2 separate regions of the Homo sapiens genome follow, and region 1 is linked to region 2. The links come from fine-mapping of genetic effects on gene expression. A gene starts in region 2. The other region holds a variant in brackets. All regions are shown on one strand. Distances are between the middles of the regions. Region 1 holds the start of LOC105375918 (a long non-coding RNA gene). Region 2 holds the start of TPD52 (tumor protein D52).

Evidence for each region. PIP is the estimated chance that this variant, and not a neighbour inherited with it, causes the effect.
Region 1: its variant is fine-mapped to the expression of TPD52 in adrenal gland (GTEx, PIP 0.91).

What each region holds. Positions count from the first base shown.
Region 1 is chr8:80,087,098-80,102,977 of GRCh38, reverse strand. The region is part of intron 1 of TPD52-MRPS28 (TPD52-MRPS28 readthrough); the gene reads left to right. The region is part of intron 1 of TPD52 (tumor protein D52); the gene reads left to right. It overlaps LOC105375918 (a long non-coding RNA gene), which reads right to left and starts at 15,583. Exons shown (of 3, transcript XR_007060978.1): 1 at 15,544-15,583; 2 at 14,866-14,949; 3 at 10,754-11,272. RefSeq lists enhancers at 384-433, 844-973, 736-1,236. The variant G/TGG (reference allele first, on the strand shown) is at 9,029.
Region 2 is chr8:80,163,781-80,179,660 of GRCh38, reverse strand. TPD52 (tumor protein D52) reads left to right here and starts at 8,097. Exons shown (of 8, transcript NM_001025253.3): 1 at 8,097-8,236. The coding sequence starts at 8,218. It overlaps TPD52-MRPS28 (TPD52-MRPS28 readthrough), which reads left to right and starts at 8,097. Exons shown (of 7, transcript NM_001387778.1): 1 at 8,097-8,236. The coding sequence starts at 8,218. It overlaps LOC105375920 (a long non-coding RNA gene), which reads left to right. Exons shown (of 4, transcript XR_929095.3): 4 at 1,708-2,007. RefSeq lists a silencer at 7,936-8,265.

The DNA of each region.
Region 1 (15,880 bases), 77 kb after region 2:
GTTCTCCAGGAACGTCCATGGGTTCAGCCATCTGGAAGCTCCCAGAACTGTTTTGTTGTTGTTGTTGTTTGTTTGTGGAAACTTTATTACATAGGCATGGTTGATTAAATCATTGGCTGTTGGTTAATCGATTCAACTGTAAGCCCCTCTCCCCTCCCAACAAGTTGGGAGTGGGACTGAAATTTCCGGCCCTCTAATCACATGGTTGGTTCCCCTGGCCACCAGACCCCATCTTGAGGCTATCTAGGAACCCCCAGCTACTAATTATCTCATTAATACGCAAAGACACTCTGATCACTCTGGAGATTCCAAAGATTTTAGGAGCTCTATGTCAGGAAACGGGGACAGACCAAATATATATTTTGCAATATCACAACACGATGTTCTAAAAGGCCTTTTCTATTTGCGAGGTATTTTTCTGCTACCCTCTGTAGCCAGCCTCCAGCATGGTTTGTGATGATCTGGTCTTCACACTCGTGTAGTTGCCTCCCACATGTTACCAGGTTTAGTCTGTGTGACCAGTAGAATATAGCAGAAATGATATGTCACTTCTAAGATAAAGGACAGTGGCTTCCATCTAGGGGTCTCTTTCTCTGTCAACCACTTTCTCTGGAAAACCAGCTGACATGTAGTGATCAGGTCCATAAAGAGGTCAACATCGAGAGGAGAAAAAGGCTCCTCAGTAGCTACGTGAATGAGCTTGAAAGTGAGTGAGCTTGGAAGCAAGCCTTTGGAGATTACAACCCTGCCTGAGGGCTTGCCTGCAACCCCAGGGGAAATCCGGAGCCAGAACCACTCAGCTAAGCTGCTCCCTCATGCCTGACCTTCAGAATCTGTGAGATGGTAAATGTTCAATGTTTTAAGCTGCTGAGTTTTGGAGTAATTTGTTTTAGATAACTAGGACATGCTGCAATTCCTATTGTGAGTCGAGTTGTACTCCTTCATTCCCAATGCCCTGGAGCCCCTCAGTGTGTGCACACAGGCTTAGTTGCATGCACTCTCTTTCTCTGTCTGCCTTCCTCCTCTGTTTCTCTTTCTCTTTGCCTCTCTCTCACACACACAATTTCACTTGGCTGCTGACACGGTTTGGGTGTTTGTTCCCTCCAAATCTCATGTTGGAATGTGATACTCCCCGGTGTTGGAAGTGTGGCCTCATGGGAGGTGTTTGGGTCATGGGGGGGATCCTTCATGAATGACTTTGTGCCCTCCCCTTGGTAATGATCAAGTTCTCACCCGGTTGGTTCACACGAGAGCTGGCTGTTTCAAAGAACCTGGTCCCTCTCTTGTTCCTTCTCTCACCATGTGATGCGCCTGCCTTCCCTTCACCTTCCACTATGAGTGGAAGCTTCCTGCGACCCTCACAGAAGCAGATGCTGGTGCCATGCTTCTGTACAGCCTGCAGAACCATGAGCCAAATATAAACCTATTTTCTTTATAAATTACCCACTCTCAGTTATTGCTTTTTAATAATGCAAACAGATTAACACAGTTGCTTAATTCTTTTTTTTTTTTTTTTTTTTTTTTTTTTTGAGCTGGGAGTCTCACTCTGTCGCCCAGGCTGGATTGTAGTGTTGCCGTTTCAGCTCACTGCAACCTCCACCTCCCGGGTTCCAGTGATTCTCCTGCCTCAGCCTCCCGGGTAGCTGGGATTATAGGCATGTGCCACCACATCTGGCTAATTTTTGTATTTTTAGTAGAGACGGGGTTTCACCATGTTGGTCAGGCTGGTCTCGAACTCCTAACCTCAGGCGATCTGCCCGCCTCAGCCTCCCAAAGTGCTGGGATTACAGGCGTGAGCCACCGCGCCCGGCCTTAATTCTTTATTATGTTTATCTGTTATCTACATTATTTCTCTTCCCATACATCTTTTCTTCTCTTTTAAATATGTTGTTGTCTGGGTCCCTGCTGCTAATACGTTCAATAGTAAATATCTCACTGTAACACTTGGTATGGCAACACTCTGAGCTCAGGAATGATGTAACGGTTAAATGTATGTGTGGACTTGACTGTGCCATGGGGTGCCCAGACATTTGGTCAAATATTTTGGGTGTGTCTGAGGCTGTTTTTGGATGAAATCAACATTTGAATTGGTAGACTGAGTAAAGCAGATTGACTTCTCCGAATGTGGATGGGCCTCATCCTATCATTGAAGGCCTGATTGGAACAAAATGGCTGGGAAAGAGGGAACCTCTCTCTGACTGTCTTCCAGCTGGGACATTGGTCTTCTCCTGCCTTTGGACCCAGGCTTGAACTAGAATCTAATGCCACAGTTTCTTCTGGGTCTCCAGCTTACTAACTGCAGGTCTTGGGACCTCTTACTTAGCCTCCATAATTGTGAGATATGAGAACCCTGACTGTACAAATGACCTAATAAACTTTGGCTAGCTAGGTGACTGGAAAGAGCTGACTTAGTAAGTAATTTCTGAGATGCCACCTGCTGAAAAGTCCTTTATCCAGCAGCCAGTATGAACCTGGTTTCAGGTAGGGTTTTTCAGTGAGGCAGATTCTAGTTTCTGTTCCGAAAACAATTGGTTTTTAGAGAGAAATGCTGAAGGTGCTGTTGCCTTTTTGCTTCTCTTTGTCTGCTTGTTCATAAGCAGCAGAGTACAATCTGTAAAGGGGAGTATGAATAGTGTTTCTGTTTTTGTTTAAGAGTAAGAAATTGCCAGAGAAAATAATTAGGGCTTGGATCAGCTTATTTAAAGCAATCATCTTCACACTAAGATATTACTTTGGTTTATTTCAGAGCTTGTTTCTGTGTGTCACTTTGCCCCCTTCTGCAATTTGTGCCCTTTGATTTTCAGTTCTTAAAATTTGGAGGCGAGATTTCCCCAGAGGATTATCTTTCTAAATCAAATCCTCTTTATCAAGAATCTAAATTTAAAATTGCGTGTTTTGATAAACATGCAGGTTAAATGTTTAGAACACTACTTAGAGAAGATGCTGGGGCCCATGCCTGCCTTCTTAGAAATCCACAGAAAGGAACTAGGGCTGCCAGTATTTGTTGTATCATTGGGCCATAATAGGTTTGTCATCTTGATAGGCTGTTTTCACCAAATATTTGCCAAGAAAAGAGACTTTAAGAATTAAATGTAGGCCTTAAACTTGTTCTACTTCTGCATTCAATAGATATCTGTTTCTGTTTCATTTTAAAAAGATGTTAGACCAGCTGGGCGCGCTGGCTTACGCCTGTAATCCCAGCACTTTGGGAGGCTGAGGTGGGTGGATCACTTGAGGTCAGGTGTTCAAGACCAGCCTGGCCAACATGGTAAAACCCCGTCTCTACTAAAAATACAAAAATTAGCTGGGCGTGGTGTCACGCTCCTGTAGTCCCAGCTACTCAGGAGGCTGAGGCAGGAGAATCACTTGAACCTGGGAGGCGGAGGTTGCAGTGAGCCGAGATCACACCACTGCACTTCAGCCTGGGTGACAGAGCGAGACTTCATCTCAAAAAAAAAAAAAAAAAAAGATGTTAGACCACCATCCAGTTTTGTGAACCTCCCTCACCTGTGGTGGAAGGTTCTTTGCAGATGGTAATACCCTCCCATCATTTGCAGCATCTCTAGCTTGGCCAGATATTCAAAACATTGTGTTTTTTGTTTGTTTGTTTGTTTTTTCATAAATGCCAAGAATTTAGCTACAGTTGGTCAGGCGATTGTCTACTTTGCATTAATAATGGCATTTGATATTATAATAGGGCCGTTATTTCCTTTATTATGAGCTTAGCCTTTCCATTGGAACTGCTGGAATACCTTGGGAGATATTGTGGGTTTGATTCCAGACAGCCATAATTAAAGCAAATATAGCAATAAAGCGACTCACACACATTTTTTGGTTTCCCAGTGTATGTAAGAGTTATGTTTACACTATACTGTAGTCTTTTAAATGCACAATAGGCATTATGTCTAAAAAATTGTGTATATACCCTCGCCCCCAAAACAAAACAAAACAAAACAAAATTGTGCACTTACCTCAGTTTAAAAATACTTTATTGCCAAGAAATGCTAACGGTCAGTGAGTCTTCAGTGAGTCCTAATGTTTTTTGTTGCTGGAGGGTCTTGCCTCAATGAGAATGGCTGCTGACTGATCAGGGAGGTAGCTGCTGAAGGTTGAGCTGGCCGTGGCAATTGATGGGCTCTTCCTTTCACAAAAAAATTTCTCTGTAGCATACAATGCTGTTTGATAGCATTTTACCCACAGTAGAACTTCTTTCAAAACTGGAGTCAAAACTCTCAAACCCTGCTGCTGCTTTATCAACTAAGTTTATGTAATATTCTAAATTCTTTGTTGTTATTTCAACAGTGTTTACGGCATCTTCACCAGGAGTAGATTTCATCTTTGCTCATCTATAAGAAGCAACTCCTTATCCCTTCAAGTGTTATCATGAGATTGCAGCTATTCAATCACATATCCAGGCTCCACTTGTAATTCTGTAATAGTTCCCTTGCTATTTCTGCCACATCTGCAGTTATTTCCTCCACTGAAGTCTTAAGCCTCTCAGAGTAATCCATGAAGGCTGGAATCACCCTCTTCCAAACTCCTGTTATGCTATGTTTTAACCTCCTCCCATGAAACATGAACTTTCTTAATGGCATCTAGAATGGTGAATCCTTTCCAGAAGGTTTTTAATGTACTTTGCCCAGACCCACCCGAGCAATCTCTGGCAGATTGGCCACAGTAGCCTTACAAAATGGATTTCTTAAATAATAAGACTTGAAAATAGGAATTACTCATTGATCCATGGTATGCAGAATGTATGTTGTATTAGCAGGCATGAAAACAACATTCATCTCCTTGTACATCTCCATCGGAGCTCTTGATGACTAGGTGCATTGTAAATGAGCAGTAATATTTGGAAAAGAAATCTTTATCTGAGCAGTAGCTCTCAACAGTGGGCTGAAAATATTCAGTAAACCATATTATAAACAGATGGGCTGTCATCCAGGCGTTGTTATTCCATTTCTAGAGCACAGGCAGAGTAGATTTATTTAGCATCATTCTTAAGGGCTTTAGAACTTTTGAAATGATAATGAGCATTGGATTCAACTTAAGGTCACTGGCTACATTAGCTCCTAAGAAGAGAGTCAGCCTGTCCATTGAAGCATTGAAGCCAGGCATTGACTTCTCCTCTCTAACTTTGCAAGTTCTAGAGGGCATTTTCTTCCAATAAAAGGCTGTTTCATTTACATAGACAATCTGTTGTTTAGTGTAGCTACCGTTTTAGTTTGTTCTTGCATTGCTGTAAAGAGCTACCTGAGACTGGGTAATTTATAAAGAAAAGGTTTAATTGGCTCACAGTTTCACAGACCGTACAGGAAGTATGGCTGGGGAGGCCTCAGGAAACTTAGAATCATGGTGGAAGGCAAAGGGGAAGCAGGGACGTCTTAGATGGGTGGAACAGGAGGAAGAGAGCAAAGTGGGGAGGTGTTACACACTTTTAAACAATCAGATCTCTTGAGAACTCACTATTGTGAGAACAGCAAGGGAGAAATCTGCCCCTATGATCTAATCACCTCCCAGCAGGCCCCTCCTCCAACACTGGGGATTACAATTTGACATGAGATTTGGATGGGAACACAGATCTAAACCATATCAGCTACCTTCATAAATTATCTTAGCTAGATCTTTTGGATAGTTTGCTGCAGCTTCCCTATCAGCACTTGCTGCTTCACCTTATACATTTATGTTATGGAGATGGCTTCTTTCCTTAATCCTCATGAACCAACCTCTGCTAGCTTCAGACTTCTTCTGCAGCTTCCTCACCTTTCTTAGCCTTCATAGAATTGAAGAGAGGTAGGACCTTGCCCTGGATTAGGCTTTGGCTTGAGGGAGTGTTGAGCTGGTTTGAACTTCTATCCAGAGCATTCAAACTTTGTCCATATCAGCAATAAGGCTGTTTTTGCCCTCTTATCATTCATGTGTTCACTGGAGTAGCACTTGTAATTTCGAAGCTTCAAGAACTTTTTCTTTGCATTCAAAACCTGGCAGGTGCAGGCGGTCTGGTTTTTGGCCTACAGAGACTATTGACATGCCTTTCTCGCTAAGCTTAATCATTTCTAGCTTTTGATTTAAAGTGAAAGATGTGCTACTCTTCCTGTCATTTGAACACCTAGAGGCCATCGTAGGGACATTAATTGGCCTAATTTCCATATTGTTGTGTCTCATCAAATAGGGAGGCCTGAGGAGAGGGAGAGAGATGAGAGAATGGCCAGTTTGTGGAACAGTCAGAGCACAAACATTTATCGATTGAGTTTGCCATCCTGTATGGGTGTCGTTTGTGGCATCCCAAAACAATTACAATAGTAACATCAAAGGTCACTGATCACAGATGACCATAACAGATATAATAATAATGAAAAAGTTTGAAATAATGAGAGAATTAGCAAAATGTGATGCAGAGACACAAAGTGAGCATGTGCTGCTGGAATAATGGCACTAATAGATAGACTTTCTGGACACAGTGTTGCCATAAACCTTCAGTTTGTAAAAAACATACTGTGAAGTGCAATGAAGTGGAGTGCAGTAAAACAGGAGTATGCCTGTACATGTAAACATGCTTTCTTTGGTGCTACTTCAGATACTTAGGAAGCCTTGACCATAGTCCAAGCAGATGAGTTTTGGTGCTTGAGTATTTTACCCCAGGCAGACTAGGAGAAGTTTGTGTGTGTGTGTGTGTGTGTGTGTGTTTGTGTGTGTGTGTTTGATAGTCTTTATTTATTTTGAGACAAGTTCTTGCTCTTGTCACTCAGGCTGGAGTACATTGGCACAATCATGGCTCACTGCAGCCTTGACCACCTGGGCTTAAACAATCCTCCCACTTCAACCTCTTCAGCAGGTGGGACTGCAGGTGCACACCACCATGCCCAACTAATTTTTGTATTTTTCATAGAGACGGGTTTTTGTCATGTTACCCAGGCTGGCCTCAAATTCCTGAGCTCAAGCAATATGCCTGCTTTGGCCTCCCAAAGTGTTGGGCTTGGAGGCGTGAGCCACTGTGCCTGGCCGATAGTATGTATGTATGTATGTATGTAGAGATGGAGTCTCACTCTGTTGCCAGGCTGGAGTGCAGTGTCGCGATCTCAGCTCACTGAAACCTCCGCCTCCTGGGTTCAAGCGATTCTCCTGCCTCAGCCTCCTGAGTAGCTGGGACCACGGGCGCATGCCGCTACACTCAGCTAATTTTTGTATTTTTAGTGGAGACAGACGGAGTTTCACCATGTTGGCCAGGATGGTCTCGATCTTTTGACCTCATGATCCTCCCACCTTGGCCTCCCAAGTGCTTGGATTACAGGCATGAGCCACCGCACCCGGCCTAGTCTTTGTATTTTAGGGCAGTTTTGGGTTTACAGAAAATTGAACAAGTAGTGCAGAGTTCCTTCACGCCCCTAGTTTCCCTTATTATTAACACCTTAAATTCATATGGTACATTTGTTACATTTGGTTAATGCTGAGACATTATTATTAACTAAAGTCTGTAGTTTTTATTAGTGTTGTCCAGTTCAATGGATTTTGACAGATGCATAATATGTAGCCACCATTGCAGTATCATACAGAATACTTTCACTGCCCTAAAAATCACCAGCACCCCAACCTAGTCATTCCTGCTTGCCTCCCCCTCAGCCCTTGGTAACCATTGATCTTTTTACTGTCTCCATAATTTTGTCTTTTCCAGAATGTCACATAGTTGAGATCTTACAGTATTTTGGCTTTTCAGATTGGCTTTTGTCAATAATATGCATTTAAAGTTTCTTTGTGTTTTTTCACAGCTTGCTAGTTCATTTCTTTTTAGTGCTGAATAATATTCCACTGTCTGGATGTACCACAGTTTATTATCCATTCACCTACTGAATGACATCTTGGTGGTTTCTTGTTTTTGGTGATCATGAATAAAGCCACTATGACCATTCACTACAGGGTTTTGTGTGGTCATAAGTTTTCAGCTCATTTGGGTAAATACCTGGGAGTGCAATTGAAGGATCTGTGATATATTCTTGGTCCCAGCATCTCTCCTCCTGCTGACAATTACCCTCCTTATTGTGACAACCTAACCAGGCCTGCCTCTCCCAGGGCTTCCTCTTCTTCACTTAGAGCATTTTCTGAACAAGTCTGGACACAAAGGTCTTGCTTATATTTTCAGGAAAGAGTATTTAAAATACTTCTTAATCATGGTTCCAACTTATTTCAACTCTTATAATTAAGTGATCATTTTTTTTTTAAATTATGGTAGAATATGTGTATATAAGATATAATTTGTGATTTTAACCATTTTTAAGTATACAGTTCAGTTGTATTCATCATATTCACATCATTGTGTAACCATCACCACTATCTGTTTCCAAAACTCTTACCTGGGGATATGATCATTTTAAAAGAGGAATTTGAAGAAATACATCTGAAGCTATATTTGGCAATATGTTTCCATCAGTAACTCCCAAAATCTCAGTGGCTATTGGCAACAATCTTTATGTCTCCCTCATGTTATATATACATACATATATATATATATATATATATATATATATATATATATATATATATATATATATAAAATTTTCTTTTGTCTAGAACTTAGTCACATGGCCACATCTAACTGCAAAGGAGCCTGGGAGGTGTAGTCTAGCTACCTGCGTAAGAATAAGAACAAATTGGCTTGGCGATTTGTTAGCATTCCTGGCCATATTAAGTAAGATTATTAAATCATACACATTGTTAACTTGATCTTTCAGAGATGACATGACAGTAATTGTATGGTTTCATAGATCTGGCTGTGTTTCAGGAGAGCATTTTTCCATCCCATGCTCTCTTTCCATCTAAACGTTAATTATCTTATCCTTTTAACACTGAGAGAGCTTCCTGGAATAAATAAAATTATATGCCTATTTTGATAAATACCTGTTTGATAGCGATGTTTTATAAAACTCTGAGAAAAGTCAACAAGGAGCCTTCACAGTGATTAATACAGCAGTTATTATGGTCAGATGTTAAAAAAAATCTCATGTCTTCAGTCTTGTGCCAAAAGGCAAAGAAA[G/TGG]TTTTGAAGCTTTCCACACACTGATTTGGTTTCAAGATAATGGGCTACTATTGAGTTTACATGTAGCATTGGTCTTCTGCTATTGTCTTTATAAAGGAAAGTATGTGAAATTTGGAATTGGAAATGTCATTTCTTAACCAGAGTAGCAGGTTCAGATGGTGAAGCTATCACTTTTGGCACAGGACTCTTGTTTCTTAATAAAATTTAATGAAAAATTGACAAGATTTGTGCAGTGTATATTTTTTTTAATGGTTGACCCACTGAATGCATCTAATTAGCTTATTACAGTTTAAAAGCAAGTTTAACTGCCTAAATGTATGACTTGGTATTTTGATCTTGTTTGTTAGGTCTCAGCTTGCTGATGATAGAAGTTTGTGGTCCAATATTAATTTTAAATAAGTGCCTACTGTTCTCTAGAAACTCCCATTCCCTTAAGGAAAAGTGTTTCATATGAGCCTCTCATTGCCAGGAATAGCTGTGTAAGCATTGTGGAAGTTTTTTCCACATTAAAATGTAGTCCACCAGTTCATTTATTCCTTTTAGGGTTGTGACAGTCGCTTGTGTTTATGCACCCCTGTAGAGCTGTCTTTAAACTCATTCAGCAAATTGGAAACATTTAGCTTGGATGACACCTCTTTAATCTTCCAGTAATCTCACCATAGAGACCACTGTACTCTCAAATACATTGTTAATACTTTTAGTAAGAATGGCCTGCTTTCATTCTCTTATTACTGAGCCATTATTCTGGACTCTGTTTATTATTATTATTATTATTCCAGAGTCGAAATAATTATCCCGTTGAAAAGACCAAGCATGTGCACACCCTGTTGTGACACAGCCGGTTTTGTCCTATCTGAACTTGCCTGCTTTGTGAACTGTTAGGGTCTCAGAAAAACAAAAAACAAAATCTTTTATTTTTAACATTTAATTTTTTATAGTTTTTATATTTTTTAATTGAGACAAAATATATGTATATAATTTACCATCTGTACCATTTGAAATGTACACTTCCTTGGTAATAAATATATTCTTTATTCCCCCTTCCACCTTTATTCCATCCTTTATTCCTACCCCCACCCCTGCTCAACTCCTCCTCTTCCCAGCCTCTGGCAGTAATTTAAAGTGTGAGTGACAATCTCACCTCTTATAATTATGTGATCTTTTTTTTTTTTTAAATTGTGGTAGAATGTGTATAACACGGAATTTGTGATTTTACTCTCTCTTCACGAGATCTACAGTTTTTAGCTCCACTTGAGTGAGAACGTGTGACAGTTGTATTTCTGTTCCTAGCTTATTTCACTTAACATAATGACCTCTAGTTCCACCCATGTTGCTGCAAATGACAAGATTCATTTTTTTATGGCCAAGTAGTAATAAATTGTGTATATATACCACAATTTTCTTTATTCAACTATTAATGAATATAGGTTGATTCCATATCATTGCTATTGTGAATAGTGCTTCAATAAACGCGCACGTGCAAATATCCTTGACATCTGATTTCTTTACATTTGGGCAAATACCCAGTAGTAGGATTGCTGGATCTATTAATATGTTAATTCTGTTTTTAATTGTTTTGAGAAATCTCCATACTGTTTTTCACAGTGGCTGTGCTGGGAAGATGTGTCAGTGGGTGGGGGGAGGATAAAACGAGGTTAGTTAATGGTTACAAACATACCTTAGAAGGAATAAGTTCTAATGTTCGATAGCAGTGTAGGATGACCATAGTTAACAACAATGTATTGTAGATTTCAAAATAGCTAGAAAAGAGGACTTGGAATAATGCCAACACACAGAAATGACGAATACTCGAGGTGATAGATGCCCCAAACCCCTAATTTGATCATTACACAGTGTAAGCATGTGATAGAGTATCATATTTGTGCCCCCATATACATGTACACATATTTGTATCAATAAGAAATATATACAAAAAGCCAAACCTTTTTAGCTATAAAATCTGTCTCTTATGTTCAAATGTATATAGTTAGAAAGTGCTGGAGTCCTGTAACATCAGTATTCAGAGTTTACTCAAGCTTTCATCCTCAGGCAAACTTAGCAGCTGTTATCTAAAGCCAGACTTGCAGCATCAGAAATCACCTGGAGCTTGTCCAGAAAGCAAGAGTCTTGGGCTCCACCCCAGACTTTCTAACTCAGAATCTGTAGTTCCACAGGCTCCCCTGGTGGCTCTGGTATGTAATAAAGTTATTTGAGAAGCACTGGCTGGAGATCTTTTACCTGAGCCTGTAATCATGGAATCACCCATCAGTATGTGGAGTGACCATAACATTTCAACTCAAACTCTATTTCTAAAATGAAAAAATCTGTCTATTGTATCTAATTAAGTATATGACAAATATCAAGCTCTCTTTCCACTATTTTCTGGTGTTCTCATGATCTGACAATGACAGTGGCAGGACCATGTACTGAGATGACCGAAGTGAAAATAGTAATGCTCTTTTGTGTATTTTTTTTTTTTTTTTTTGAGATGGAGTCTCTGTCGCCCAGGCTGGAGCGCAGTGGCGCGATCTCGGCTCACTGCAAGCTCCGCCTCTTGGGTTCAGGCCATTCTCCTGCCTCAGCCTCCCAAGTAGCTGGGACTACAGGTGCCCGCCACCACGCCCAGCTAATTTTTTTGTAATTTTAGTAGAGACGGGGTTTCACCGTGTTAGCCAAGATGGTCTTGATCTCCTGACCTTGTGATGCCCGCCTCAGCCTCCCAAAGTGCTGGGATTACAGGTGTGAGCCACTGCGCCCAGCCTCTTTTGTGTATTTTAGAATCCAGTCTGTGACTCCTTGTGATAGAGAATTCAGGCATTCTTGAGACTTCTCAACAGATTCTGACTTTCCCAGGTACAGGCTTATCCAGACGACATGTTTGGAGATAGGTTGAGAGAGGGAATGACATCTTATGCTTATTATATGTCACTCTTGCTCTTCAGTATTTGAAGGAAACACTGTGTGAAGAACAAAAACCTTCTGTCCTGGCTGCTGACATTAACTCAATTTTAGTTATTTTGAGAGGGCAGAAGAATATTCTAAGTAGACTGTTAGGGGTTCCTAACAAGTGAGAATTTCTTTGCAAGTCAGTGGGCCAAATAAACGATTTCTTTAAAAATACAAATCCATTTTATCACTTAAGAGTATTTACATTTAGTTCCAAATAATTTGCATATGCCTGCTAGGTTATGCCTTTTTATTCTAGAGAAGAGGCTCCAAAGAGGATAGTTTTTTTTTTTTTCTTTCTTATAATACTGTGCTATAATAGTCTTTTTTCCCCCATTGGGATGGAAAATAAAGGAGAAAAGAAGTGGCATTCCCATAGGGAATATTTCCTAAGTTTCTAATGCAAAGTTTCTAATCTGAAAACTGCCACATATTTTTAAAAGAATGCCAACATGATTTAATCTAGTTTCATTCAGTTTAGGAACTGAAATGCCCCTGGGTGAGGGACAGCATCCCTGAACCTTCCTTGGCCCCTGGTCTGCCCCGCCCCTCCCCATCCCCACTGTGCTTCCTCTTCTGCATTGTCTTCTTTGCTCTTAAACACACACATTTGAAAACTTTATTTATTTGTTTTTTAAAGAGGTGGCACCATCGTAGCTCACTCTAGCCTTGAACTCCTGGGCTGAAGTGATCCCTTCTGACCCAGCCTCCTGAGTAACTGGAACTACAGGTGTGCACCACTGTGCCTGGCTAATTTTTATTTTTTATTTTTTTTGTAGAGCCAGGGCCTCGCTTTGTTGCCCATGCTGGCCTTGAACTCCAGGCCTCAAGCTATCCTCCTGCCTCAGCCTCCCAGAGTTCTGGGATTATAGGTGTGAACCACCATGCCTGGCCTAAAATACTTTTTAAAACTTCTTTTCATTCGCTTCTTCCCTTTCCTTTCCTCCACTGCCTACCACTTCTGCTTATCTGACATCTACCATCACTCTCACTAAAACTTCAGTGCGAGATCACCAGACCCCAAGTCCTGTGGCTTCTTCTTGCGTCTCTTTAGCATTTGATCTTATCCAGTTTCTCTCCTCCCTTGATTCCTGTGACATTGGTCACTCAAGGTTTTCTTCCAGATGTTTTGCTTCTTGAGAGCAATGGAATTGGAATCCTAAGTTTTACCACTTTCTAGCTCTGTGCCTAGGGCAAGACACTTAACTTTGATGTGTCTCAGTTTTGTTGTAAGATAAGGGTAGGGAAAAACTTACCCCATAAAATTGATGCAAGTGCATAGAAGAATGTCTGGCACATAGTAAGGGTTCCTTAAGGATAAGTCATAATTATTGTCATCATTAAAGGTCATTGCTTGCCCTTTTTAGGCTCTTTGGCCTGCATGCTGATTGTAGGTGTTCACTAATTTTTCCACTCCTTTTCATAGGGCCTCTCTTCTCTTCAAATTTTTTTTTGACGATCTCTGGGTTTCCCACATTTTATATCTTAGCCCCTAACTTTTTCCCTGAGGATAGAAGTTTAATTTCTAACCTCAGGCTGGCCATTTACTCCAGAAGTCTTGTGAGCTCTATTAACCAAATCTGCCAAAATGCAGCTCATTCTCTTATCACCTAAAGTCTCTTCTCTCTGTTCTTCAGTCCTGCCTCTCTTTTGCCACCATCTTCATTAATGCGGTCACTGTCCTTTACAACTCCTGCTGGGGTATCACACGTTGGCTTCTCATTGCCCGTCACCCAAGTCCTCCAGTTGATCTCCAGCATCTGTTGATTGTCTGTTCATGGTGTCATGCAGTGTGTCTTTGCTTTGCTGTTCCCGCTTCTGTTCCATGCAGGGCACATGCCTTTTGTATTAGTTGGTTTGGGCCGCAATAACAATACCATAGAATAGGTGGTTTGAACAATGGAAATTTATATTCTCACGATTCTGGAGGCTGAAAGTCCAAGATCAAGGTGCTGGTGGCAGGGTAGATAGGTTTCTGGCATGGGCTTGCTTCCTGGTTGACAGAGAGCTGCCAGGCGCAGTGGTTCACGCCTGTAATCCCAGCACTTTGGGAGGCCGAGGCGGGCGGATCACGAGGTCAGGAGATCGAGACCATCCTGGCTAATGCAGTGAAACCCCGTCTCTACTAAAAATACAAAAAATTAGCTATGTCCTCCCTGGCCTTTTTTCTGTGAAAAAGGCCTTTTGCGTGAGCATCCCTAGTGTCTCTTCTTACTAGGACAGCAGTCCTATTGGATTAGGGCCTCACCCTATGACCCTGTTTAATCTTAATTACCTCCTAAAGACCCCATCTCCAAATACAGCCATATTGGGAGTTAGGGCTTCAACACATGAAGCTGGGGAGACACAATTCAGTCCAGAACACCCTTGGCGCTGTTGCTGGGTAGCTGTCCTGACTTCCCTCTCCCCTCGGCAGTCCAGCTTCAGACAGGGGTGAGAATGATCTTTCTGACACGTGGCTTTGGCCTCCCATTCCTAATTACTCGACTTGGCTCCCCACGGCCTAGATGCAGTGAGAGGAAAATGACCACTGTAGGGTGGCTTCCTTCATTTCTCAGTTCCTTATGCTCACTCCTCTGGAAATTGGAGATAACATGACTAACCTCGTGTTATTGAGGGATTAAATAAATTCTAATGAAGAATTGTTGCTTTAATCTGACGAAAACCAAATTCCTACTCTCCAGCCTCCATTCGAGTTCTTCCATCACCTTGTTACTCCAAGTGTGATCCCATGTGGTTCCAGGGCCAGCAGCCTCCCATCACCAGGATGCAGACTCTGCATCACAGCAAGATCCCCAGGGCCATTAGATGTGAGGGACTGGCTTATCCTTACTGCCCGGCTCTAGGCTACAGCCACAGGATGGAGAGGACAGGGACTTGGAGGCACGTACCAGGCTTCAAACTGCGGCTCCTTTACTTGCTAGCTCTATGCCCAAAGACAGGTTTACAGGAACTGTCCTTGTCTTGTTTCCCCTCTGAAAAATAGGGAGAGGCAGAGGTTTACCTCACAGAGGTTTTGAGGATTAGCTGAGAAATTTTGTAAATAAGAGAGCATCTACCCTTGTGATTTTAAATTGAATTTCATACTTAAAATCAAGTACTTTTTATTTGGAGTCAAGGTTTGTTTATTGTGGCACAGTGTCGGGGAATGAAGAGGTGTGGGGTGTGGGGTGTTCATTAACCTCTCAGCCTCTCTGCCCTCTCACCCTGTGCAACAGGGTCCCCACTGGTCTCCCTCTGGGAAGATGTGACCAGCATGGGATATGATGGGGAGACTTCTTTTCTGTAGAAGGTAAACCAACTGCTGCTTCGGTGGAAGGTGGAGAGAGCCCTTCCAGCTCTCAGAAGGGGCCTGGAGCCGGTATGTGCCTGTGTGTCTGTGGCTGGAGCCCAGTCCCATTAGGCCCTGCCCCCGTGATTGCTGTGAGAGGTGGTTGCCACACACTTTCTCCACAGCGCCCTCAGGGCTGCTGAATCTAAGGCAGAGGAGTTCTTGTTTTTTGTTTGTTTGTTTTTTAGCCCTTTTCAAATTTACAGAAGGATTGCAAGAATAAGAATAGTGTAAATACCTGCTCCTGTGTTACTTTGCTGAAGATAATGGCTTCCAGCTCCATCCATGTCCCTGCAAAGGACATGCTCTTGTTCCTTTTTATGACTGCATAGTATTCCATGGTGTATATGTGCCAACAACACAGGTGTGGGGGAGGGAGAGCATAAGGAAGAATAGCTAATGAATGCTGGGCTTAAGACCTAGGTGATAGGTTGATTTGTGCAGCAAACCACTATGGCACACACTTACTTATGTTACAAGCCTGCACATCCTGCACATGTACCCTGGAACTTAAAAGTTGATGGGGGGAAAAAAAAAGGACACCTGCATTCTCTACTCAGGGTCACTGTTAACGT
Region 2 (15,880 bases):
TCATTCAGCTTATAGAGGTCACCCGTACTCCTTGGCCCATGGTCCCCTTTTCTCCATCTTCAAAGCCAGCAAGAGTGGGTCAAGTCCTCTCATGCTTTCGAAACTCTCCTGCCTCTTTTTCTGTTGTGGCATCTCTCAGTCACAAGATTCTCAGCTCTTAAGAGCACATGTAGGTGGGGTGCAGGGGCACACACCTGTAATCCCAGCACTTTGGGAGGCCAAGGTGAGCAGATCACTTAAGCTCAGGAGTTTAAGATCAGTCTGGGCAACGTGACAAAACCCCGTCTCTACAAAAACATATGAAAATTAGCTGGGTGTGGTGGTGCTCATCTGTAGTCCCAGCTACCTGGGAGGCTGAGGTGGGAGGATTTTTTTGAATCCTGGAAGTCGAGGCTGCAGTTAGCCAAGATCATGCCACTACATTCCAGCCTTGGTGACAGAGTGGGACCCTGTCTCAAAAAACAAAAACAAAAGAGCACATGTTATTAGAGTGGGTCCATCTGATAATCCAGGATAATCTTCCTCTCTCAAGATCTCTAACCTTTATCAAGTCTGTAAAGTCCCTTTTTGCCAAAGGTTCTGGGATTAGGACACAGACATCCTTGGAGATCTTTATCCCAAATGATACCTACCACAGGAGTTTTAATGTCTGCTATAATATAATTTCTAACAACTGGTTTTTCTCTGAATGCTCCATTTTTTTATAGAGCAAACTATTTTTGTCTCATGTTTAGGATATTTTCACTTATCTCTCTGAATATAATAACAATAGCTTTAAAGATCTGTTTGTTTCCTTCTCCTTGTATAGTTTGTTTCCTGTAAGTTGCCTTTTTATGGTGTTTATTTTGGTCTTTATCTTCCATTAAGGGACTTGTATTAGTTGGGTCCCACGCTGCTAATAAAACCATACTGGAGAGTGGGTAATTTATAAAGAAAAGAGGTTTAATTGACACGCAGTTTCACATGGCTAGGGAGGCCTCACGATCATGGTGGAAGGCAAAAGAGGAGCAAAGTCATGTCTTGCATGGCAGCAGGCAAGAGAGAGAACATGTGCAGGGTAACTCCCATTTATAAAACCATCACATTTTGTGAGACTTATTCACTTCCACGAGAAAAATATGGGGAAAACTGCTCCCATGATTCAATTATCTCCACCTGGCTCCGCCTTTGACACATAGGGATTATTACAATTCAAGATGAGATTTGGGTGGGGTCAGAGTCAAACCATATCAGGGTTTTTCTCTGGATCATGGCTGCCTGCCCTGAGCATGAAGCAGCTGACTGGTCTCTTTAGGTACGTGGGCAAGATTTGTGACCATAGATTTGAGGGTAAGGTGATCTGGTTTATCCAATGTCAACATTTTTGGTTCTTTACTCTTAGGTTGGTTAAATTCCTGAGAGATGGATCTTTCAGTCTCCTGCTTTCACAGTATATGCCTGGCTGTTTGCATCCTGAGAACCAAGCAGAGCAAGGCTGGAGAAACAGCATTCATGATGTGAACTGCTAATGAATTTTTCTGCCTGTATTAGGAAATCCTCAGCCTCAAATGTACTTAGTCTTCTAGTAAAGAGATTGTCAAATTTCCTTCTCCAGAGAAGCCACTTTAGTATTCTTGCAGAATAGGGAAGGGGATGGGACCCAACTTCTTAAGTAAACTTTCAACCAATCCTCTTGTTTTGAGCCTCACTTTCTTTCTACATCCACAGATACCTGATGCCAAGTCCTGAGGTTTTTGGAAGTGCTGCAGTGGAAATTAGGTTCTTCTTGGCTTTCCCAGTTTAGCATTTGGCCTTCTCAGATTCACAAGATCAATTATCATTACGTAGACACTCACATTCTCTTTGTCCTTGTGAGTTTATCTCTTTACTGTAATTTTAGCAGCATAGAGAGGAAGTAAGAATGAATCTATGTTGAGAATTTACAAGAACCTCTTAATTTTTTACTTCAGAAGGGTGAGCTTTATGGTACATGAGTTATATCTCAATAAAAAACATTTTAAAAATAAATAAGGCTGGATGCTGTGGTTCATGGCTGTAGTCTCAGCTACTCAGTAGGCTGAAATGGGAGGACTGCATGAGCCCAGGAGGTTGGGGCTGCAGTGAGCTGCACATCAGTGCAGTGAGCTGCATTGATCCTGCCACTGTATTTCAGCCTGGGCAACAGCTGAGACCATGTCTCAATCAATCAATCAATAAAAATGTGTCTGATATGCCATCTTTATCCTAAAGTATGACTCCATAGTTTAGAGATGAGGACAGTGAACCAGAGAAGCTTAAGTGAGAGGCCTAAGATAGTGATGTTTTCTTTTCTTTCTTCTTCTTTTCTTTTCTTTTTTCTTTTCTTTTTTTTTTTTTTGAGGCAGAGTGTTGCTCTGTTGCCCACACTGAGTGCAGTGGTGCAATCTTGACTCACTGTAACTTCAACCTCTCGGGCTCAAGCAATTCTTCTGCCTCAGCCTCCTGAGTAGCTGGGACTACAGGCACATACCACCATGCTTGGCTAACTTTTGACTTTTTGGTAGAGACAAGGAGGTCTTACTAAGTTGCTCAGGCTGGTCTCAAACTCCTGGACTCAAGCAATCCTCCCACCTCAACCTTCCAAAGTGCTGGGATAACAGGTCTGAGCCACCACACTCAGATCCATAGTGATGTTTTTGTTTGTTTTTGTTTTTGAGACAGAGTCTCACTCCATCACCCAGGCTGGAGTGCAGTGGTGCCATTTCTGCTCACTGCAACCTCTGCCTCCCGAGTTCAAGCTGTTCTTGTGCCTCAGCCTCCCAAGTAGCTAGGATTACAGGCATGTGCCACCACCACTCCTGGCTAATTTTTGTATCTTAGTCGCCATGTTGGCCAGCCTAGTCTTGAACTCCTGACCCCCAATGATCCTCCCTCCTTGGCCTCCCAAAGTGCTGGCATTATAGATATGAGACACTGTGCCTGGCCAGATAGTTTAAAGTGATGGTTTAGATAAATCCACTCCAGAGTTTTCAGTTGTTTCTGGTCTTGCAGAGTTATATTTTGGTGACAGTGGCACAGAATTTGGCTCTTCATCAAAGACCCTGGGCACTTGCCATTCTGGCCTACACCATTTCTGCCAGAGGACCATTGGCATTCTGGAAAACTAGCTATCTTTGCAGGGGTGAAATGGTTTGTAAGACACTGAGTTGAACACCGTGTAAAAATTTAGAAATATTGTTAATCATTTAATTGTTAAATATACATATCTCTAATGCATTTTATACCCTGGAGTAATCTTAGAGAGAGATGAAAAGATTAGAACGGTGATGGTGGAGACTCCAGGAGAAAAGGGACAATGGCTCTCCCAGCACTCCCTTCCCTACCCAGTTCCCATATGTAATTTGATAAATACACAGAATCCAGAGTGGCTTAAAAACATACAAGAAAGATTAAGTGTCTATGGCTTTTCTTAATGTAGCCAAAATCAATAGTGTGAGATCGTTTCCTGTTAATGTTTAGGTATTTATGTGTCCAACCTCCATTAGTGTTAAGTACTCTTTCCTGCCAATACCTGTTTCTACACATTTTTAAAAGTTGTTTATTTCATATTCACAGTCAGTCTCTTACATGGATGGCTAAGAGAATACAATAAGATGGCTATTCAATTATCTTAAGCAAAAAAATGTTCATTACCTGACATTAAATCAATTTTTCTCCAAAACTTGTTCTTGATCTCTTGGGCCTCCTAACCTTCATCCCTTTGTTTACTACCATGATTCAAGCAGGAAGAGTCTATCTTTCTCCTGGATGATGATATAATTTTCAAAATTGTGGTATCATATGCCTTCATTTGTTTGAACAATCAGAGAGCCAGAACTACCCTTTGACATAGGTAGGGTAGTCAGATTTAGCAAATAGAAATATAAGACAACTTGCTAAGAATTTAAGATAAATAATAAATTTTAGTATAAGTATGTTGCAAATATTGTAGGGTATACTTTTTTGGGTTTTTTCTGAGATGAAGTCTTGCTCTGTCACTCAGGCTGGAGTACGGTGGTGCAATCTTGGCTCACTGCAACCTCCACCTCCCGAGTTCAAGTGATTCACCTGCCTCAGCCTCCTGAGGAGCTGGGATTATAAGCATGTGCCACCACACCCAACTAATTTTTTGTATTTTTAGTAGAGACAGGGGTTGATCACGCTGGCCAGGCTGGTCTCGAACTCCTGACCTCAAGTGATCCACCCACCTTGGCCTCCTAAAGTGCTGGGATTACAGGGGTGAGCCACCACTCCTGGCCAGGGATATACTTACACTAAAAAATTACTTGTCATTTATCTGAAATTCAAATTGAACTGGGTGTCCTTTTATCTTATCTGGCAGCAACCCTAGACCCAGGCTACCTGAAGCCCCTCCACTGGGCGCCCTGGGTCCCATAGAGACTTCCCACTTTTGTTCTCCTTGATGAGCAGTCCCTAGCATCAAATATCTACCCCCTCTTTATCAACGGTGCATCTGATACCTATAACTACAGAATCTCTTGCCTAAACTGGCCAACATCTGTTGTCAAGGCCTTCAGCTTTTCTCCCAGGACAGTCCTTTTGAGTGCAACCCTAGAATGGAGGTATGGCCAAGGCTCGGCTGATGGGAAAGGGTGGATAGAGATGGGATATGTCCTAAGGCATCCACGCACAAGGGAGTGGGCCAGCCTGGTGCAGGACAGAGTCAAAGTGAAAGGACAGAGCCAGAAGAGAAAGCCAGGGGCTCCATTTGTATCCTCGCCCCAGGCCCCACAAATATGAGGGGTAAGACTACAGAAAGCATCCCACTTGCCACACATTCTGTGTGATTTCTGCTGGCTATCGGTCAAGGAAGATACATACAACAAGGGCAGAGTATAGAGTTTTTCCACTTACATAAGTCGGTTTCTATCTATCCTTTTCAATACCTTCATTTGCTTCAATGCATTTGTTTCAGGGGAAGTTTACAATTTCTTGTAAAAATTTCACCAACAAATGAGTATTCTGAAAAAAGAAACTTAAAAAAAGAAACTTAAAAAAAATCCACGTTCCCATCAACAATAACACCACAAAGTAAATCTAGTGTTTCTTTCCTGTACTGAGCCTTTTAAATGTGGTTCAACTCAATGCACCCAGGTGCTCTGTTTAAGTGCTAGCCATTCTCCAGAGATTCCTCAGAGTGCTAAAACATAAGACCTGTTCATTTCAGAAGTAACACAGCATAAATTGTAAGCACAGATTCTGTCAGAAGAAAACAAATGAAGTAGTACGAAGACACAAGAGAAAAGCAGGCTTTTGTAGAAATACATGTAGTAGGAAGATGTAAGAGAAAAGCAGGCTTTTGTGGAAATATCATGTACTAGGATATTTATAGTATGAACAGTGCTCATTTAACCTCAAAGAGAAAATTAAGTTAATCTATCTCTAAGGCTCAGGATTGCATGTATCCACCTACGTGGGTGCATGCCAGAGTGCATTTTCTATATGGCGCATTCTATCAGTTGGGATTGCATTTGGCTCCATCTAACAGAAAGCCAACTACAGTGGCCTTACAAAGTCAGGCATTTATTTTTTTCCAGTAAGAAGCAGGTCTCTGATGCCATGGATTCTTGGGTTCTTTCTGCCGTCCTTGGCTTGTGAATTTCTTCCTCGTGTTTGCAAAATGGCTATTGCCCCTCTAAGCAGGAATGGGAAGGGTGAAGGGCCAAGTAATGCTGCCAAGTCTGTCTTCTTTTTAAATGCTTTCTTGGAGATTCCAATTAGTACAGTTTGCTCACATCTCATTGGACATTAATGAGAGAGACCCACCTCCAGCTGCAAGGCAGTTTGAAGTGCCCAGTGTTTCAGCTGGGCACATTGCCACTCCAAACAATATTTAGGTTATCTTAGGAAGGAAAACAGGAAGGCTGTTTATCAGGTAGGCTATTTGCCATCTCTGCTGCATGTGAACTACTCTATAAGCTCTTCAAAAGATAAGACTTTTTTTCCTTTCAGCATACATAACAAGTTCATCACTATATAGTAAGTTAAACAGATACAAACAATAAATATTTGTAACGGACACTCACGTTCAAGTGCTATTTATTTGTCCACAAATTAGTACATTGAGAGATTGTCTCTCCAGATGTTTATTTCTATACAATAGATCTCAGCATCAGCTAGTCAAAAATTCTTTACCACATACAGAATTTTCTGCTGATGCCAAAATTTACCTTTATGTTACATTAAAAATTTTTTAAAAAATATTGCACCTTTTTGGGCTCAAGCAATCCTCTTGCCTTAGCCTCCTGAGTAGCTGGGTTTACAGGCAAACACCACCATGCCTGGTTTAAAATTACAATATTTATTAATTGCATGGTAGAATTAAAGGATGCAGAGATGACCAAAATAATCTTTGCCCACCTGGAACTTTTTTTTTTTTTTTTGAGATGGAGTCTCACTCTGTTGCCCATGCTGGAGTGCAGTGGCGTGATCTCAGTTCACTGCAACCTCTGCCTCCCGGGTTCATGCCATTCTCCTGCCTCAGCCTGCCGAGTAGCTGGGACTACAGGCGCCCGCCACCACACCTGGCTAATTTTTGGTATTTTTAGTAGAGATGGGGTTTCACCGTGTTAGCCAGGATGGTCTCGATCTCCTGACCTCGTGATCCGCCCGCCTCGGCCTCCCAAAGTGCTGGGATTACAGGCGTGAGCCACCGCGCCCGACAATTTTTGTATTTTTAGTAGACACAAGGTTTCACCATGTTGGCCAGGCTGGTCTCAAACTCCTGACCTCAAGTGATCCACCCGCCTTGGCCTCCCGGAGTGCTGGGATTACAGGCGTGAGCCACCGTGCCAGGCCTGTTTTTTGATTTTTTTAATAGGCCATTTTAAGGACTTTACCACCTGGAGCTTGTAACCTAATAGGACTGTGAAACATACACTGGTAGCATCCTGGCACCAGTGCTGGGGTGAGTGCCACAGGAGAGGAGCCAAGTGCAGTCAGAGTAGAAGGACTCAAATAGAAGAGATCACATCTGGTTGAGTCAAACAGTAAACGTCCCCAGAAGACACTGGAAGATGCAGGCTGGAGAGAGCTACACTTTACATACAGCACGACAGTATAGAGATATTAATAGCATACAGTCACTTCAGGTAACTACAAGTAATTTTAAAACATCTGAATAAGTGCTTCTTTGTTGTCTGTGGAGTGCTACACAATGCTTCGGCCTAAACGTCAAGCAACACAGAAAAGAAGCCCCACTTCATTTGCAGCCTCAGATAGCTTACGAAATTGAGACACCACCTGAAGACCATGACCCATACAATCAAAGTGACTTCATGGAAGACGAGTAACTGCAAAACCCTGTGAAAACAGATTGTTAACGCTACTAATGAAAAGAACTGGATTGTTACGGGAACCTCAAACTGTCCTTTGATCAACGGACATGACGCCTCAACACGCATTTTCCAAAGATCTCTGCTGATAATTCTGACCTTCGGTTAATTTAATTAATTTCATTTGATTTAATTCATTTTAGTGTTGTCCTCAGTCCCGCACTCAAAACAGATTTTTATTATATGAAAATCTTCCTAGTCACCTAAAAAATCCGCATTCTATGGAAAAGACTATATAATTTTTCAAGAGATTCTTTGCAATTTTCACCTATGCTGGTTTATGACCTAGTTAGAGAAGACATCATAGGGCATTATTTAGGTAATAAAATACAGAGAGAAAAGAGCCACTGGCATTTCTAAATAACGTTCCTGTGTTTCCTACTGTAAGTATAGGAAAGTAGGTGTTCGCAGATGCAGAGAAAGGGCATCTCCAAGGCCTCGGAGGAAACTTTTGATTTTATAAATAACTTGATGGTGGAAGGCAAACGCCATCCCGGTTCCCAAGCAGGCTCCACGCAGCCTCCATGGCCGAGTCCATCTCCTCGCCGTCCTCTTCCCTCCTCCCGGCCGACTTCCAGCCGGTGCGGGAGTCGGGGTGCGCCCGGCCCTCCTAGCGCTGCGCCGCCCGCGCCGACGTGGCGGAGCGCACAGGTCGACCGGGTCAGGTGGTTGGGTGACGCCCCAGGAAAGCGCTCCAGGCCGAGGGCGGGCGGCGCCGCCGCGCCCGACGCCTCTGGGGGTGGGGACTTCGCGGGAGTCGCCGGCGGAGGCGAGGAGGAGCTCTGCGCGGCGCGGCGGGCGATCCGAGCCGGGACGGGCTGCAGGCGGGGGTGCTGCAGAGGACACGAGGCGGCGGGCTGGAGACATGGACCGCGGCGAGCAAGGTGAGGGCGCGGACCCAGCGGGCTTGGGCTCGGGCTTGGACTCGGGCTTGGACTCGGGCTTTGGCTCGGCGCGGGGCTGAGCGCGGCCCGGCGGCTCGAGCAGGTGCCGAGCCTCCTGGGCCGGCGCCGCAAGTTGCATCTCCCGGATCCGGATCTGGCATCCTGGGGCCCTGGAAGGAGCGGCTCTGGCGGGGGCAGATGGGACTGCATGTGTGAGTGTGAGTGTGCGTGTGTGGGGGAGAGGGAGAGAAGGTTCTGGGAGGTGGCGAAGGGGCTAGCGTCAGGGGCTGGCGGCCGTGATGCGCTTTGGGTGGAAAGCCGCGTGAAGGGAGCACGGCGCAGCCAGCTCCTGTAAGTGACTGGAACCAGGAACAGAGGACAGTGAGTCGCTCTCGTCCCTCCAGGTGGGAAACCCCTCTCTCCCTCATAAATTAAGACTTTCTGCCTTCTTCTAAGTTCAGGTGGTTAGGATTTTTGGTGGCGTATGACCCATGGGGGGTTTGGGAGGCAGATATTTATCATACTAGAAACCCCCAGATTGTGGAGTGGTGTCTGTGGGTTTGAGGGAAGAGAGCTTTTCGTAGGAAGGGTGAAATCCCACAACACAAAACCTTCAGTCTAATTTACCATAGCGTTGGGTGCACTTGCTTCTGAAAACAGCTCAAGTGAAATTACCCCCAAATAGAGCAATAGTAGGCCATGGTTTTCAGATTTAAATAGTTTCATCCTAGAGATCTCTGCTGATCATAAGCCTGTGACTGTACGCAGATGTGTGTGGCACGCTTTTAAAAAGATACATAAATGCTGAAAAAAGAAAACAAGGTAGGTAATCTTGGGAAGTGAGGATAGGAATCACTCCTGTTTTGAGCCCTGACACAAGTTTTCATGTATTGCTTATTTTCCTCCAGTATGTGCCGTCATGTGTGCATTTTTATGTAAATCAAACCATATTCCAAATATACTATCTTGTACTTTATTTTTTTCAGACTCTGGTGTTTTTTTTGTTTGTTTTTTTGAGTCTCCACCTGTAGCCCAGGCTGGAGTGCAGTGGCGGGATCTCAGCTCACTGCAACCTCTGCCTCCCTGGTTCAAGTGATTCTCCTGCCTCAGCCTCCCAAGTAGCTGGGATTACAGGTGTGCGCCACCACAGCCCGGCTAATTTTGTATTTTTAGTAGAGACAGAGGTTTCTCCATGTTGACCAGGCTGGTCTCCAAGTCCTGACCTCAGGTGATCCACCCGCCTCAGCCTCCCAAAGTGCTGGGATTACAGGTGTGAGCCACTGGGCCAGGCCTGTACTTTACTTTCATTTACTTGTAAGATAGACTCTTTGGAGTCTTTCAGCTCTTTCCTCGCTCCCCTTCAGATTAATTTCAGACTTAACACAAGTGCTTACAAACATTACATACAATATGCTTTATATGTGTTACCTATGTGTATATATATATTATACATTACCTGTATAACGTATATATACACATACATATTATTATCTAAATTTTAAGCTTCTTGAGGTTAGAAACATTTCATCTTTGGTTGTCCTGAGTGGGATAACATGATGACTTGTACATAGTAGACATGCAAATGTTTGAGTTAGAAAGCTTGTCACATGTCTTGTATATATTGTTAGCCGGCTTAGGGGCCACCATGTAAGTCAGCATTATGTCTGTCTGGCTTTCAATGGGGGCGACGCAGGACGGGGGAGACATGACGACAAACGTGCCCATGTGTATTTGTATACTAATCTGTTACACACTGTCGTTTGACATAATGATGTTTTTAGAATAACTATGTTTGGTACTTGTCAAAGTAAATTAAACGGCTGTGTTTTACTTACGTGAGTGGAGTAACTAGTTTTAGTAGTGTTTGTGTTCTAGCTTGGGTGGTAAGAATCAACAGTCATTGGTAGCACTGCAGTATTCCAACTTCTTGTGTAGTTTTTATAGGACTAGTTTAAGTGTCTAATTCTAAGACATATTTTTTTCAAATCTTTATCTTGTAAGATGAGTCTTTTCGTGTCTATAATTTTCCCATATGTTCTTTGGGTGAGGTGGAGGACTCTGCTCCGAATGAAAGAAGAGGCACTGCCTTGGGAGGGTCAGTTCATTTACTCCAAAGCTTTGCTGTGTTAGAACAACGTGGCCAAGGCTGGGTGCGGTGGCTCACACCTGTAATCCCAGCACTTTGGGAAGCTGAGGCAGGCAGATCACTTGAGGCCAGGAGTTTGACCCCTGTCCAACAAGGTGGAACCCTGTCTCTACTAAAAATACAAAAATTAGCTCGGCGCGGTGGCACCGGCCTGTAGTCCCAGCTATTCAGGAGGCTGAGGCAGGAGAATCACTAGAAACTGGGAGGCAGAGGTTGCAGTGAGCTTAGATCAAACCACTGCACTCCAGCCTGGGCGACAGAGCGAGACTCTATCTCAAAAAACAAACAAACACAAAACAAAACCACCTGGCCATTCCTTACTCTTGCTTCCACCTGCCTACCTGCCTTTTCATCTTTATGTTACCAGTGCACACAGTAGGTGCTTAGAAATATGTGTTGACTGCCTAAGATGAGTGAGGAAAGTGTCCAAGAGCAGGCCCCAGCCATAGTAACCTCTGTGTCCCTCCAAATCCATCTCTTGTTTCCCACTTTCTCCTGTTCTGTTTTCCCTGTCTATTCTCAAGAAGCAGAACTTAGCCAGAGAGTTGCTGATAAGGCAGTGCTGGGCTTGGAGGATAACTTTACATGGAAGATCTTAGAACTAGTAGAGTGGATGACTCAGTCTTAAGTGAATCTGGAGCAAGACTCCTGCCTTAAACTGGAAAAGGCACAACCTGGGATTTTAAACCTGGTGTTCACTAGCAAACTGTGTTGGCTGAAATAAGGTTTATCAAACTCTGTGATTGTCTCCTGAATTGTGATTTTGGCAACATACTTAAAACCAAAGCAGAAAATTTTAGGATTTGTTGAACTTTTAATAGTTTTTAATGTACATGGAGTTTTCTTATATTTGTCCCTTAAAAAATCCCTAATGAAACTCTAGTTGTAAAATTAAATGCCCTACCTCTTGTCTTACATGCATTTATCTATTGAAAATCCCTCTTCCAACCTTCTTATGTGAAGTTATCAAAAAATCTGTTCTTGCTACTGATTGTACTTAACAGAGCTGTAAATTTTTAAAATAAACACTGAGTTTTCCTTATGTTTTCAACCACGAGTATTCTAATGCTCTGTAGTATCAGGCCCAGATTCTGTTGTTTTTCTACTTTCTCTCATACCTAGGGCTTGAATACAATACTCTGCTTACAGTGAGAGTTCAGTGAACATCAAATGATTTAAAATACGTTAAATTGCATCATGCCTTTCAAGAGTTTCCAAGCATTAAGCTCAGCGCAGCACATTTACTGTGTGTGGTATTTCCTACTTTGATAGAGCAGTGTTGCTAACTAGAGCATACATTGTGTAGAAAACCCTCCTGACTACCTTTTATGGAGCTGAATAAATATGTATACTTGAGTGCTCTCATGTTAGTCATAACCTTTAGTTTAGCACTGTTATATAGAAGTGACAGTCACGTAGCCCACTACACATTATACTAGTTTGAATTTAAACAAAGCAAAACAACTTTATAATTTTAAGGGGAAGAGGAATGGTTCCTGAGGCCAAAAAACTAGAGAGGAAAGGCTTCAAAAAAAGAATAACACAATAATATGTCACTATCATTTTAACATTGTAATTGTGCCTTAGAAATAAATAACAGAAATGTGGGGTATCATTTATTTAAAAATAAAGCAAATGTAGAGAATAATGGATAATAATTTTGAGGGTCTACTCCCAAGTCTCTGGGTGTGACCCACCCCATCCAGGCTGTTAATTTATTTGGTCAACAGTTTCGTGATTTCCATATGGTGCTGATGTCTTTGTTAGCTCTTCTTCACTTCCTGCATTTATTTTTATGTGGCAGGCTGCCTAGTCCCTAGGGGAATAGCTGAGTGGTAGGAGGGGTTGTGATCTTTTAGCAAGATTTCAAAACAGAATAATGTATGCATGTAATAAAAACAAATACGCTCACTCACAGTGCAAAACCAAAAAGAACACCCAAATCCCTGGAACTTCTGTGCTACTAAGTCTTTTGTTGTAGGCTAAGATTATTTTCCTTTTGGGGTTAATTATTTCTGCCTTAATTATTGACTGTTGTGAAATCTCTCTTCTGAGACATTCCCAAATTTTATTTAAACTAGTGGGTACCAGCTGTACTGAAACCATAATTTTAGCCATGTATTTTTATTAGAAAAATGTTTCCAGGGGATTAAGGAATTTTAATATTTAGTGGAAGTTTTAAAAAAGAATGTAAAAATGCCTTTTGGAACCTAAGAATAGTTGTCTATTTTAGAAAAATCAGAAATATTGATGGAGAAAAAAGAAAATTACCCATAATCCTGTGCGAGAATGAGAAATCATAGTTAGCATATTAATTTATACCTGTTCATGTATCTATGCTTTAAACAAATCACAATTTTATTATTATTTTTTTTAACAGTGTCTCGCTCTGCCACCCAGGGTGGAGTGCAGTGGCGTGATCTCGGCTCACTGCAACCTCTGCCTCCTGGGTTCAAGCAATTCTCCTGTCTCAGCCTCCCAAGTAGCTGGGACTACAGGCGCATGCCACGACACCCAGCTAATTTTTTTGTATTTTTAGTAGAGATGGGGTTTCATCATGTTGGTCAGGCTGGTCTCGAACTCCTGACCTCAGGTGATCTGCCCTCATTGGCCTCCCAAAGTGCTGGGATTACAGGCGTGAGCCACTGTGCCCGGCCAACAAATCACAAAATTTCTTATTGAATATTGCATTTTATAACTTGCCCTTTTAAAAAAACCCTAAATGTATTTAAAAAATACACTTTAATGGCCGCATGTGGTGGCTCATGCCTGTAATCTCAGCACTTTGGGAGGCCAAGGCGGGCGGATCACCTGAGGTCGGGAGTTGGAGACCCGCCTGACCAACATGGAGAAACCCTGTCTCTACTAAAAATACAAAATTAGCCGGGTGTGGTGGCATATGCCTGTAATCCCAGCTACTAGGGAAGCTGAGGCGGGAGAATCGCTTCAACCTGGGAGGCGGAGGTTGCAGTGAGTCTCTCTCTCTTGCCCAGGCTGGAGTGCAATGGCACCAATTTGGCTCACTGCAACCTCCACCTCCTGGGTTCGAGTGATTCTCCTGCCTCAGCCTCTTGAGTAGCTGTGACTACAGGCGTGTGCCTCCACGCCATAATTTTTCTATTTTTGTAGAGATGGGTTTCATCATGTAGTCCAGGCTGGTCTCGAACTCCTGGCCTCAAGTGATCCTCCCGCCTCAGCCTCCCAAAGTGCTGAGATTACAGGTGTGAGCCACTGCGCCTGGCCTAGAGCAGCTCCATTTTTAATGGCCATTTGTATGTATTTATTTATAGATGTAACATTTTATATACTGTTATAGACAATATTTAACTTGTTCCCTGTTGATGAACATTTACATTTTGCCTTGTAGGGGAGGAAAAATTTCTCCCTACCCTTTTAGGGTTTCTGGCGAGGCCTAGGAATTAAACCAACATGAGATAGATTAACAGGAGAAAAGCATGCAAATTTTATTTAGTGCTTTTTATGTATTACATACCTTTTACCCTCACAAGAGGAATGAAGACTCAAGGAAGTGGCTTGGCCTGATCGATTATATACTAGGTCAAAAAAAGAGTGGCAGTTGTGGAAAAGTAACTAGGAAGGTAAGGTTTAGTTTAGCAAGGTTTCTTTATGCAGATTTCTTTGGGCTTGGACTTCCTGTGATAAGAATGTTTCTTTCTTCCTGGTAGAGGGAGGACATCTTTCATATGGGAGCTTCATCTTCTGCTTTCAGGAAAAAGAGAGGAGGTTTGGGTGCCCTTCTTAACACCTGCTGTTTTTCAAGTGCCTTTAGCCCAAAATAATCAGCATGCTAAAGTGGAATGTTTTGGGATGCTGTGTCCTGAACTCCTTCACCCTGATATTTTGCTGTTAAAACAAAGCTGCAGCAAATGTATGTGTATGCAAGTCATTCCATAAAAATGCCAGTGTGTCTGTAGGAAGAATTCTTAGAAGAATGTGGCTGTTCAATTTTGATAGTGCCAAATTCTGCTCCATAGAAGTGGTGCCAGTTATACTTCCACCAGCATGTGCGAGCGTTTGCTTTCCCTTGCCATGTGGCCAGGATGTTGCCACACTTTTCCATTGTTGCTTGTCTTATAGGGGAAAAATGGTTTCTCAGTATAAGTCTTACTATATATATTTAATATAAAGGTAGTTTACTTCTTTTGATATGTTTACAATCTACATGGCATTTTCTGTGAAATATCTGGCCATATCTTTTGCCAATTTTTCTATTGTATTTTATAGAATGTACCCCGTTTATGAGATGAGTTGTTAATTTTTTTTCTAGTTTGTCATACCTTTTTTGACTTTATAGTGATTTTTTTTAACCAAGAAGAAATACTAATAGCTCTTTTTTTTTTTTTTTTTTTTTTTTTTTTTGAGACATTGTCTCCCTCTGCCACCCAGGCTGGAGTGCTGGAGTGCTGGAGTGCAGTGGCATGATCTCTGCTCACTGCAACCTCTGCCTCCCAGGCTCGAGCAGTTCTTGTTCAGCCTCCCAAGTAGCTGGGATTACAGGTGCGTGCCAGCATGCCTGGCTAATTTTTTGTATTTTTTAGTAGAGATGGGGTTTTGCCATGTTGGCCAGGCTGGTCTCGAACTTGTGGCCTCAAGTGATCTGCCCACCTGGGCGTCCCAAGCTGCTGGGATTACAGGAGTGGGCCACCATACCCAGCCTAACTAATGGCTCTTTTCATTTATGGATTCTAGCTTTTGAATCATTTTTAGAAATGCCTCCCTCACTTTGAGTTTATGCTTTTATGGTTTTATTTTTTATGTTTAAATCTTTCCTCAATCTGGAGTTTGTTTTGATAATGAGATGTGAGGTATAAATCTTAACACCTCCACCTCCAATTGGCCACCCAACTGCCTAACACCATTCATTGACTAATGGCTTCTTCCTCTATTGATTTGAAATACCACTGTTGTCATGTACTAAATTCTTACATTCTTTTCTTTTCTCTTTATCTGTATGTTCATTGCCAGCAGCTAAACCTAGTTTAAGTTATTGTAGCTTCATAAAATGTAAAAATGTCTGGAAGGGCTAGTTTGCTCTGATTACTCTATTTTTTTTTCTGTCAGTTTTTTTCTAGGTATTCTTGCCAGACTATTTCCAAACGAACATTAGAATCAACTTATCTAGGTGAAAATTCAACAAAAATCATGCTGGCAGATCTTTTTCTCCTTCTCTCTCCTCCCCCCTTTCCCCTTTCTGTCTGTCTGTCTCTCTCTCTCTCTCTCTCTCTCTCTCTCTGTCTCTCTCTCACAGTTAGAATTTGGTCTGTTTCTTTATTCAATACCCCAATATATGTTCATTAGGGTTATACTGTATACACTACACATAACAGTTTTGTTTTTTGTTTTGGATATTATTTGATAATAAGAATTTTACCACATCATTAAAAAAAGTTTCCCCAAGCTATAATTTTTGATAATTGCACTCTTCCACTATTCAAATGTTTATTTAACTCTTTCTCTCCTGGAGTAGGTTTACATTC